Linked DNA regions of Homo sapiens. The protein of the gene in region 2 interacts with the protein of the main gene of each other region in a biochemical or structural test. Each region holds a gene or a part of one and is shown on either strand. Other genes may lie near its edges.

Evidence for each region. The genes of interacting proteins can lie anywhere in the genome.
Region 1: the proteins of CSF1 (region 2) and SLA2 form a complex in vitro, tested with the Homo sapiens proteins (one study listed by BioGRID).

Annotation. Positions count from the first base shown.
Region 1 is NC_000020.11:36,615,172-36,622,211, reverse strand, and holds part of SLA2 (src-like-adapter 2), read left to right. Parts: intron 1-6,837; coding exon 6,838-6,987; intron 6,988-7,040. UniProt on the Homo sapiens protein: Adapter protein, which negatively regulates T-cell receptor (TCR) signaling. Inhibits T-cell antigen-receptor induced activation of nuclear factor of activated T-cells.
Region 2 is NC_000001.11:109,927,821-109,931,504, reverse strand, and holds the end of CSF1 (macrophage colony-stimulating factor 1 isoform a precursor), read right to left. Parts: intron 2,654-3,684; 3' UTR 513-2,653; downstream 1-512. UniProt on the Homo sapiens protein: Cytokine that plays an essential role in the regulation of survival, proliferation and differentiation of hematopoietic precursor cells, especially mononuclear phagocytes, such as macrophages and monocytes.

The DNA.
Region 1 (7,040 bases), on a different chromosome or scaffold from region 2:
TGAGATCAAGTCTTGCTCTGTCACCCAGGCTAGAGTGCAGTGGCATGATCTTGGCTCACTGCAACTTCCACCATGGGTTGGCCAGGCTGGTCTTGAACTCCTGGCCTCAGGTGATCCACCTGCCTCGGCTTCCCAAAGCGCTGGGATTACAGGTGTGAGCCACCGCACCCAGCCAATGTTCAGCTATTGATTGATTGAGACAGAGTCTTCCTCTGTTGGCTAGGCTGGAGTGTAGTGGCACAGTCATGGCTCACTGCAGCCTCAACGTCACAGGCTCAAACGATTCTCCTGCCTCAGCCTCTGGAGTAGCTGGGACCACAGGCATGTACCACCATGCCTGGTTAATTTTTAAATTTTTTGTAGAGAAAGACTCTCACCATGTTATCCAGGCTTGTCTCAAATTCCTGGCTGGGCTTAAGTGATTCTCCCACCTCCACCTCCCAAAGTTCTTGGATTACAGGCATTAGCCATTGTCCCTGGCCAATGTTTAGTTCTTATTTTTAAAATAAATTTTAATTTTACATTTATCCTCATTGTTAAGCAAGTGATGTTCAGTTTTTGTTTTTTGTTTTGTTTTGTTTTGTTTGAGATGGAGTCTTGCTCTGTCACCCAGGCTGGAGTGCAGTGGCGCGATCTCGGCTCACTGCAACCTCTGCCTCCCGGGTTCAAGCGATTCTCCTGCAGAGATCCTGCAGTGAGCCGAGATCGCGCCACTGCACTTCAGCCTGGTGACACAGCAAGACTCCGTCTCAAAAAAAAAACAACACTATAGCCTTTTTCTGCTGTTTTTAGAACCTTCTGCTACTATATCTACCACTTACACCACCACATCCATAAGCACCACCATAGGGACTGCCTGAGCTTCTTCCACCAAAACTGCCTCCTTTCATAGGTCCATAATTTGATTGCTGTTGTCCACTATAATTGCTAAAATCATTATAGTTCCCATCACCAGCATAGTTACCAGCGCCAAAATTTCCTCCTTCATTGTAACCATCATATCCTCCGCCACCGCCACCATATCCACCACCTTGGTTTTCATATCTTGCTCCACCACCACAGCAGCCCCGTCTACTGCTATAAGCAGGCTCACCATCATTGATGCCACCATCACCTCCTCCATAACTACCTCTGCTGCCACCATCTCCACCACCACAGTCTTCTCTTCCACCAAAGTTTCCACTGCAGCCAAAATTACCTCTACTACCTCCAAAGTTTCCTCTGTAACCTGTAAAATTGCCAGATCCACCTCCACGACTACTTACCATCCAGCAGGCTACCTCTGTTATTTAGTAAGGGCCTTTTTCACTTCACCATTATGCCCATTAACAGTGTGGTATTTCTGGCTGGGCGTGGTGGCTCGCACCTGTAATCCCAGCACTTTGGGAGGCCTAGGCGGGTGGATCACGAGGTCAGGAGTTCGAGACCAGCCTGACCAACAAGGTGAAACCCTGTCTCTACTAAAAATGCAAAAATTAGCCAGGCTTGGTGGTGCACACCTGTAATCCCAGCTACTCAGGAGGCTGAGGCAGGAGAATCCCTTGAACCTGGGAAGCGGAGGGTGTAGTAAACCTAGATTTCACCACTGTACTCCAGCCTGGGCAACAGACGGAGACTCTGTCTCAAAAAAAAAAAAAAAAAAAAAAGCCAGTGTGGTATTTCTGAACAATTTTAAAAACTATATCTTGATCATCAAGTTACAAAAGCAAATCCTTTTTTCGACTCTGCTTGTCTTCCATAACTTCTATGGTTTTAATCTTGCCATACTTTTCAGAGGTCTCTCAAATTATATTCTTCTGTATCTTCTTTATTTTATTTATTTTATTTTTTTGAGACAGAGTCAAGCTCTGTTGCCCAGGCTGGAGTACAGTGGCGCAATCTCGGCTCACTGCAACCTCTGCCTCCTCGGTTCAAGTGATTCTTAGCTCCCTGAGTAGCTGGATTACAGGCGCCCACCACCACGCTCAGCTAATTTTTGTATTTTTAGTAGAGATGGGGTTTCACCATGTTAGCCAGGCTGGTCTTGAACTCCTGACCTCGTGATCTGCCCGCCTCGGCCTCCCAAAGTGCTGGGATTACAGGTGTGAGCCATCGCGCCCAGCATTGTTTTTATTTTTTCTTGAGGTGGAATCTCGCTCTGTCGCCCAGGCTGGAGTGCAGTGGCATAATAATTGCCTCTGCCTCCTGGGTTCATGTGATTCTCCTGCCTCAGCCTCCTGAGTAGCTGTGACTATCGGCTCACACCACCACACCTGGTTAATTAAAAAAAAATTTTTTTTTGGCCAGGCACGGTGGCTCACACCTGTAATCCCAGCACTTTGGGAGGCCGAGACAGGTGGATCACAAGGTCAGGAGATCGAGACCATCCTGGCTAACATGGTGAAACCCCGTTTCTACTAAAAATACAAAAAAAAATAGCCACGTGTGGTGACAGGCACCTGTAGTCCCAGCTATTTGGGAGGCTGAGACAGGAGAATGGCGTGAACCCAGGAGGCAGAGCTTGCAGTGAGCCGAGATGGCGCCACTGCACTCCAGCCTGGGTGAGAGAGCGAGACTCTGTCTCAAAAAAAAAAAAAAGAAAAAAATTTGTACAGACATGGGAAGGGGGTCTCTATGTTGACCAGGCTGGTCTTTAATTCTTAGCCTCAAGTGACCCTCCCACTTCAGTCTCTCCAATTTTTTTTTTGACACAGAGTCTTGCTATATTGCCCAGGCTGGAGTGCAGTGGCGTGATCTTGGCTCACTGCAACCTCCTGCTCCCAGGTTCAAGCAATCCTCCTGCCTCAGTCTCCCAAGTAGCTGGGATTACAGGCGTGTGCCACCATGCCTGGCTAATTTTTGTATTTTTAGTAGAGATGGGGTTTCACCATGTTGGCCAGGCTGGTCTTGAACTCCTTACCTCAGGTGATCCACCCACCTTAGCCTCCCAAAGTGCTAGGATTACAGGTGTGAGCCACCGCACCCAGCCTTTTTTTTTTTTTTTTTTTTTTTCCCCCAGAGTCTCACTCCATTGCCCAAGCTGGAGTGCAGTGGCGTGATCTCAGCTTACTGCAACCTCCACCTCACAGGTTCAAGCAATTCTCTTGCTTCAGCCTCCCAAGTAGCTGGAATTACTGGCACCAAGCCTGGCTAATTTTTTTGTATTTTTTGTAGAGATGGAGTTTCACCATGTTAGTCAGACGCATCTCAATCTCTCGACCTCAAATGATCTGCCCACCTCAACCTCCCAAAGTGTTGGGATTACAGGCGTGAGCCACCAAACCTGGCTTCTAGATACTTTTTTTTTTTTTTTTTTTTTTTTTTTTGAGATGGAGTTCACTCTTGTTCCCTAGGCTGTAGTGAAATGGTACAATCTCGGCTCACTGCAATCTCCGCTGCCTGGGTTCAAGCAATTCTCCTGCCTCAGCCTCTCAAGTAGCTGGGATTTATAGGCATGTGCCACCATACCTAGCTAATTTTATATTTTTAGTACAGATGGTCAGGCTGCCTTGTTGGTCAGGCTGGTCTTGAACTCCTGACCTCAGGTGATCCAACAGCCTCTGCCTCCCAAAGTGCTGGGATTACAGGCTTGAGCCACTGCGCCCAGCCTAGATACCTTTTCCTTATTAATTTCTAATTTAATTCCATTGTGGCCAGACAACATATTTTTAATGATTTCAATCCTTTTAAATTTGTTGGCCGGGCACAGTGGCTCACAGCTGTAAACCCAGCACTTTGAGAGGCCAAGGTGGGCAGATCACAAGGTCAGGAGTTCAAGACCAACCTGGCCAACATAGTGAAACCCCATCTCTACTAAAAAAACAAAAAAATAGCCGGGCATGGTGGCACGTGCCTGTAGTCCCAGCTACTTGGGAAGCTGAGGCAGGAGAATCACCTGAACCTGAAAGGCGGAGGTTGTGGTGAGTCAAGATCATGCCACTGCACTCCAGTCTTTTGAATTCTATTGTCTGATATTAATATCCCACTAACATTCTCCCATTAATAAGCCATTCTAGCTTACTTATGGTTGTCTGCATGATATATCTTTTTTCCATCTTTTTACTTTTAGCCTTTTTTTTTTTTTTTGAGACGGAGTCTCGCTCTGTCACCCAGGCTGGAGTGCAGTGGCACGATCTCGCCTCACTGCAACCTCTGCCTCCTGGGTTCACGCCATTCTCCTGCCTCAGCCTCCCGAGTAGCTGGGACTACAGGCGCCCGCCACCACGCCCGGCTAATTTTTTATATTTTTAGTAGAGCCAGGGTTTCACCGTGTTAGCCAGGATGATCTTGATCTCCTGACCTCGTGATCTGCCTGCCTCAGCCTCTCAAAGTGCTGGGATTACAGGCTTGAGCCACTGCGCCTGGACTAATTTTTTTGAGACGGAGTCTCACTCTGTCGCCCGGGCTGTAGTGCAGTGGCTGATCTCGGCTCACTGCAACCTCTGCCTCCTGGGTTCAAGCGAGTCTCCTGCCTCAGCCTCCTGAGTAGCTGGGATTACAGGCGCACGCCACCACGCCTGGCTAATTTTTTGTATTTTCAGTAGAGATGGGGTTTCACTGTGTTAGCCAGGCTGGTCTTGATCTCCTGACCTTGTGATCCGCCTGCCTTGGCCTCCCAAAGTGCTGGGATTATAGGCGTGAGCCACCGCGCCCGGCCCATTAACTTTTGTTTTAATTTTTTTTTTTTTTTTTTTTTTTTGAGACAGGGTCTCACTCTGTCATCCAGACTGGAGTGCAGTGGCACAATCTTGGCTCACCGCAACCTTCACCTCCCGGGCTCAAGCAATCCCCCTGCCTCAGCCTTCAGAGTAGCTGGGACTACAGGCATGAGCCACTCTGCCCAGCCTTGTTTATTTATTTTTTTAATTGAGATGGAGTCTCGCTCTGTTGCCCAGGCTGTAGTGCAGTGGTGTGATCTCGGCTCACTGCAACCTGTCTCCTGCGTTCAAGCAATTCTCCTGCCTCAACCTCCCAAGTAGCTGGGACTACAGGCGCACACCACCACACCTGGCTAATTTTTTTTTTTTTTGTATTTTTAGTAGAGGCAGGGTTTCGCCACATTGGTCAGGCTGTTCTTGAGCTCCTGACCTCAGGTGATCCGCCCACCTCGGCCTCCCAAAGTGCCGGGATTACAGGCGTGAGCCACTGCACCCGTCCCCGGCCTTGGGTTTTTTATTTATTTATTTATAGAGTCTTGCTCTGTTGCCAAGGCTGGACTGCAGTGGCACAATCTCGGCTCACTGCAACCTCTGCCTCCTGGGTTCAAGTGATTCTCCTGCCTTAGCCTTCCAAGTAGCTCGGACTACAGGTGTGCACCACCACACCCAGCTAACTTTGGTATTTTTAGTAGAGATGGGGTTTCACCACGTTGGCCAGGGTGGTCTCGAACTGGGATTACAGGCGTGAGCCACTGCCCCTAGCCTGTTTTAATATTTTAAATGTGCTTATATGGCCAGGCACGGGGTGGTTCACGCCTATAATTCCAAGTACTCAGGAGGCTGAGGCAAGAGGACTGTTTGAGCCCAGGAGCTGTGATCATGCCACTGCACGCCATCTGGGCAACAGAGCGAGAGCATGGCTCTAAAAATAAATTAAAATCTGGCTGGGCGCGGTGGCTCATGCCTGTAATCCCAGCACTTTGGGAGGCTGAGGCAGGCGGATCACGAGGTCAAGAGTTCGAGACCAGCCTGGCAAATATGGTGAAACCCTGTCTCTACCAAAAATACAAAAAATTAGCCGGGCGTGGTGGTGGCAGGCGCCTGTAGTCCCAGCTACTCGGGAGGCTGAGGCGGGGGAATCACTTCAACCCAGGAGGCGGAGGTTGCAGTGAGCCGAGATTGCACCACTGCACTCCAGCCTGGGCAACAGAGGGAGACTCTGTCTCCAAAAAAAAAAAAAAAGAAAATTAAAATAAAAAAAAAAAATGAAAAAATGAAACATGCAAAGCTGGTGAAACTGTCATTCATCAGTGTATGTAATGTATACATGTAGGTTGAGCAGCACTAATAAAACTGACATCCACGCGCCCACTTGCCAGCTGAAATTACCTAACAAGCCCTTTGTAGCCCCCTCTCATGCTTCACTGTGTTAATCATTCAGTTGCTTTTCTTCAGAGCTTTGCCGTGTGTGCCTGTGCAACATATAATGTCATGTTGGCTATCTTTGAACTTTAAATAGAATCAGGCTGAATGTATGCTCTGTAATGTTTTTCTGCTTAATTTCCAAGATTTCCTTATGCTTATATGTAGCAGTTATTAATTTTTACTGCTGTATAGCACTACACTCTATAATCCACAATTTATTCTACTCTTGAGCACAAACGGGCTGTTTGCCGTTTTTGACTTTTACAAACAATGCCGCTGTGCATATTGCTTGTGTGCTTCTGAGGTATTGTGCCTGGGAAGAACTGCTGGGTTGTAAGGTACGTGCATGTTCAGCTCATCTAGTTAATGCCAAACTGTTTCCAAGGTGGCTCGTACTAATTTCTCTTCCACCAGCAGGGTGGGAGGTCCTACTTCTCCACTTCCTTGCCAGCATCTTCTTGACAGTGTTTTTGCATCCTAACATATCTGCCACCTGAGTCTTTGTAAGAACAGCCAACGCTGAATGTTCACTCACACAGTGCCAGACCCTGTACTGAGGGCTCTGTGTGTGATTTGATTTCACCCTCACAAGACCCCCATCTATTATGAACATATTATTGATGACCAAGAGAGCAAGTCTTTGTCCTGCTTCTGCCCCAGACACTTCCCTTCTGCCGGGGCCCCATGGTCACGTTGCCTATCTTCGTTTCCCAGCCTAGGTGGGGCCGAGTCCCAGCAGGGCCTCAGTGCCACCCCTGGACCCCTTTCTCCTCAGGCTCTTACTCTCTGTCAGTCCGCCTCAGCCGCCCTGCATCCTGGGACCGGATCAGACACTACAGGATCCACTGCCTTGACAATGGCTGGCTGTACATCTCACCGCGCCTCACCTTCCCCTCACTCCAGGCCCTGGTGGACCATTACTCTGGTATGGCCTTTCCCTGCCTCCAGGACTAGGCTGGGATAGTCTGTGGGGAGGAG
Region 2 (3,684 bases):
GTCTCCTCTCCAGCTCCAGTAGGAAGGTCGAGCCCGAACGAGGGCCCTTACACGGACTCCTGGCTCTCCCCTGCTAACCACACTCACTTCCCAGCCTGGAAACAGAATTCATTCACCTCAGAGTCTGCAAGGACCTAGCCAGCAACCTCTGCCCTGGTCAGCAGGGCTCAGCAGTCAAGGAGCCTTATCCTTGCAGGCCGCCGGGGCCCTTGGACAGAGCCCAACCAGCCATTTTCCCAGGCTGGGCTAGGCTGGGCAGGAGCAGGGGCCAGTGACCAGGCCTGATGTTTGGCCACTTTCTGCCCAATACGAGCAGATATGCAGATGAATGTGTTTGGGACAGCAATAATACAGGAGGTTTTGGTACCAAGACTGAAACTTGGAGAGAACCTTCCTCCCCTGTGTTTTGTGGAAAAAGGTTCTCTGAGCTGGGGTTCATCCGGCAACTGCTGCCCACCCACCCTGATGTTTGCCACCCACACCCCAAAAGCAACTTTCCCACGACTCACATGGCAGCTTGTGCACTTCTTTTATTATTAAATATATAAGCAGCTTCCTATCTTTTAAATAGATATTTAAATGACTTTATATAAAATAATTCACCACTTCCAAGTATAAAAACAAAATCTCACAGTGCGTGAGCCAATGTCCTCTCTTGACTTCTCAGAGAACAGAAGGGGTTCCTGAGCAGGTAGCCTGGGGGGACACCAGAGGTGGCTCTGGGGCTCCTCCTGCTCTGATGCCACCAAGTGCTCAAAAAGAGCTTCTGCAGTGGGTTGGATTGCTTTTTTGACCTTTAAAATATTATATGTTTAAGGTAGGGGGATGAAGGGGGAATGCCTTTTTATTTTTCTTCCATTTAAAAATATGTGTTTTCTAGCATCAAATATAGAGGCTGTGACTAGAAGGCTAAGCCCCATATGCAAGTTCACTGCCCTTCCCTAAGCTGTCGGCATCAGGACAGGGAAGGTGGGGCCAGCCGACCCTCACTTTCCTGGGCAGGAAGGGAAAGTCACGGGGCCCAGCGGCCAGGTAGGGCAGGGTCTCTTAGCGGAGGACAAAGGGCGGCAGGAGAGGAGGCACACAGCAGCACAAAGGAACCCAGGGGCAACTGGCAGCCCTGTCGCTCGTTGCCTAGGCCTCAGAGCCACCACCACAGGCTGGCCACAAAGTGGAGGCCCTCCAGGCATTGGAAGCTGAGGCCTGGCTCTCCTGATTGCTCTCCCACCCTGGCTTGCCTGGTTAGAGGTGATGGTAGAGGGGGTGGGTGAGAGTTGGAGGTCATCACTGCTGACCAAGGTCAGGAGGAAAGAAGGGTGAGAAGTGGATGGGAGCTGGATACCATGCAGGTGGGGCTGAGATGCAGCCCAGTCCAGGGCTCCTGACAGGGATAACCTGTTCAGCCCCAGGTTCCTGTCGGCAGCAGGGAAAGGACACTGCGCTGGGGTTTGGGAGTGCAGACCCTCCCCCAACCTCAGGTGCATACCTATATTTCAAAGGCCCATCTTCAGTCAGAGCTCGCCCTGTAGCCTCTCTGTCTGTGCCCTCCCCTCCCTTGCTCTCTCCCACTAGTCCCTTCCCTCTTGGGAATGTCAAAGTGCAAGATGCAGAAACCTGGGCGAACAACACAGCCTAAAGACCGGCTCTGGCTGGCGGCCCAGGAGGTTCTCCCACCCCACTCCACTCCGGGGAGTCAAAGGCCAGGTCAGGAGAAGGTCAGGGCTGAGGGGCTCCCTCAGTCGACTGGTGAGGCCAGCTCAGTGCAGGAGGCTGGGGAGAGGCTGGAGAGTGGAGGACGGACGGATGCTGGCTCATGGATGGACGGGGGCAGGCTGTTCAGCAGGCAGGTACAGTGTTCACAGTGCAATGGCTTCCTTCATGAGGGGAGCCTCTGCTTGGCCTCCTGGAGAAGCTCTGGCAGGTGCTGGAAGGAGGAGGGGCAGAGGCCAGTGCTTGATCCCCCTCTTGGCATCACTGGCAGGTCAGGCAGGTCCTGAGGGCAGGGCTGGCCTCCCCTCTGCGCCTGGCAACCAGCACAGGGCACTTAGGTGAGCCGAGGGTGTAGACCCTTCAGGCTGTCAGTGCAGACCAGCAGGTCCAGAGGCCTCCTCTTCCCGTCTCTCAGGCTGCACACCTTTACGGGAAATCAGGCCGACGCTGTCCCGCCCCACGAACTTCAGGCTCCTCTCTCTGGAGACAGGTCCATGCCTGTCCAGGCTGGGATACCTTGGCACCAGGCAGGCCCTCTGGGTGCAGGGTTCTTTCACTCCTCAGCGTCCACCCTGCTTTCCCACAAACCACAGGCCGGTGGGTCCCTGGCCTGGGTTCCGGCATGGAAGGGAGTGAGAGGAGGGTGCAGCCCCTGAGGGAAGAGGGTCCTGAGCCGGGCTCACCAGCCTTCCTCAAGCACATGGGAGCCTCCAGGGCTCACAATAAATAGTGGCAGCATGGGGAGCATCCTCTGGCCTCTCTCATTCAGTCAAGGGTCTGCGGGTTGAGACAGAGGGGCCCCAGCCTGGCTGCTCTGGTCCAGTCCTGGCAGGCAGGAGCTCTGGTGGAGGGCAGACCACATTCCAGGAGGATGGCCAGGGAGGGGTGGTGGTGGACGCCCCATAATGTCTCCTCCCACGGAGAGACTGTTCTGTGCGTCCAGCTGTGGGAGAGAAGGAAAGGCTAGTCAGCAGAGTGGGAATGCGGGGAGGGTCGTTGAGGACATGGATTGGGAGGTGTGGCATTCCTGTGGGCTGCTGGCGGTGCTGCAGGCAGGACTTCCTTTCCTCCCTTCCCTGGCCTTTCCAGACACCACAGAGAGACCAGGCAGCTTTCTCTGGCACCAGCCCAGGCCTCTGGCCCAACTGGCCTCACCTCCTACCTCCTCCTGGGGAATCAGGGCCTCAGTGGAAGATAACGGGGCCCGGGAGAGGTCTGGGCAGGGCTGGGAAGAGGGGTTACTGCTCAAGCAGAGGGCTCTGACAAGGAGCGAAGCGGGCACTTGAATGTCTTTGGACCCCTCCTCAGGCGAGGTCATCTCATTGGCCTTGGTCCAGTGAACAAAGGGTGATTCCTGCTAACACTAGCAAAGAAGAATCTTTCATTTCATCAGAGGGGCATCACATATGATGTTCAAGACAGTAGGGCAGAGCTAGCTGAAGAGGAACAACTTGGGCCAGAGAGGAAAAGTCTAGAGGCAGTGCCAGGACAAGGAAATTCCCACACTGTCATTTGGCACGCGACCCCTAAGCAACCCAGCCCCTCCTGGATGGGCCGAGGGCCTTGCCTCCCGCATCATCCATGGGAGTCAGGGCCTTGTCCTCTCGCCTTCCACCCCCATCCTTGTCCTCTTGCCCAGCATCCTCAGGACGCTTTGTTCCCAGAGCAGAAATCCCCTGGACCCCATCCAACAGTTTGACTTTGGACCTTGTGTGGAGCCTCCCTCCCTAACATCCATAGGCCCTACTGGGTAAGGAGGGAAGATGGAACCACAGCCTCTGGCTCCCTGCCCATTCCCATGCTCTAGAGGGAAAGAAGGGGAACCATAAACTGGACATGAGCCATGCTGGGTACAGCCAGGCCACAGGCCCAGCTAGGGCCCAGGAGGGGAGAAGGACCCAGTGAGCGAGTTCCAGCCTGCTGCCCCATCTTCTAGCTGCTTAGGGCTGAGGTGCTGGTGTCTGCATTTTCTGT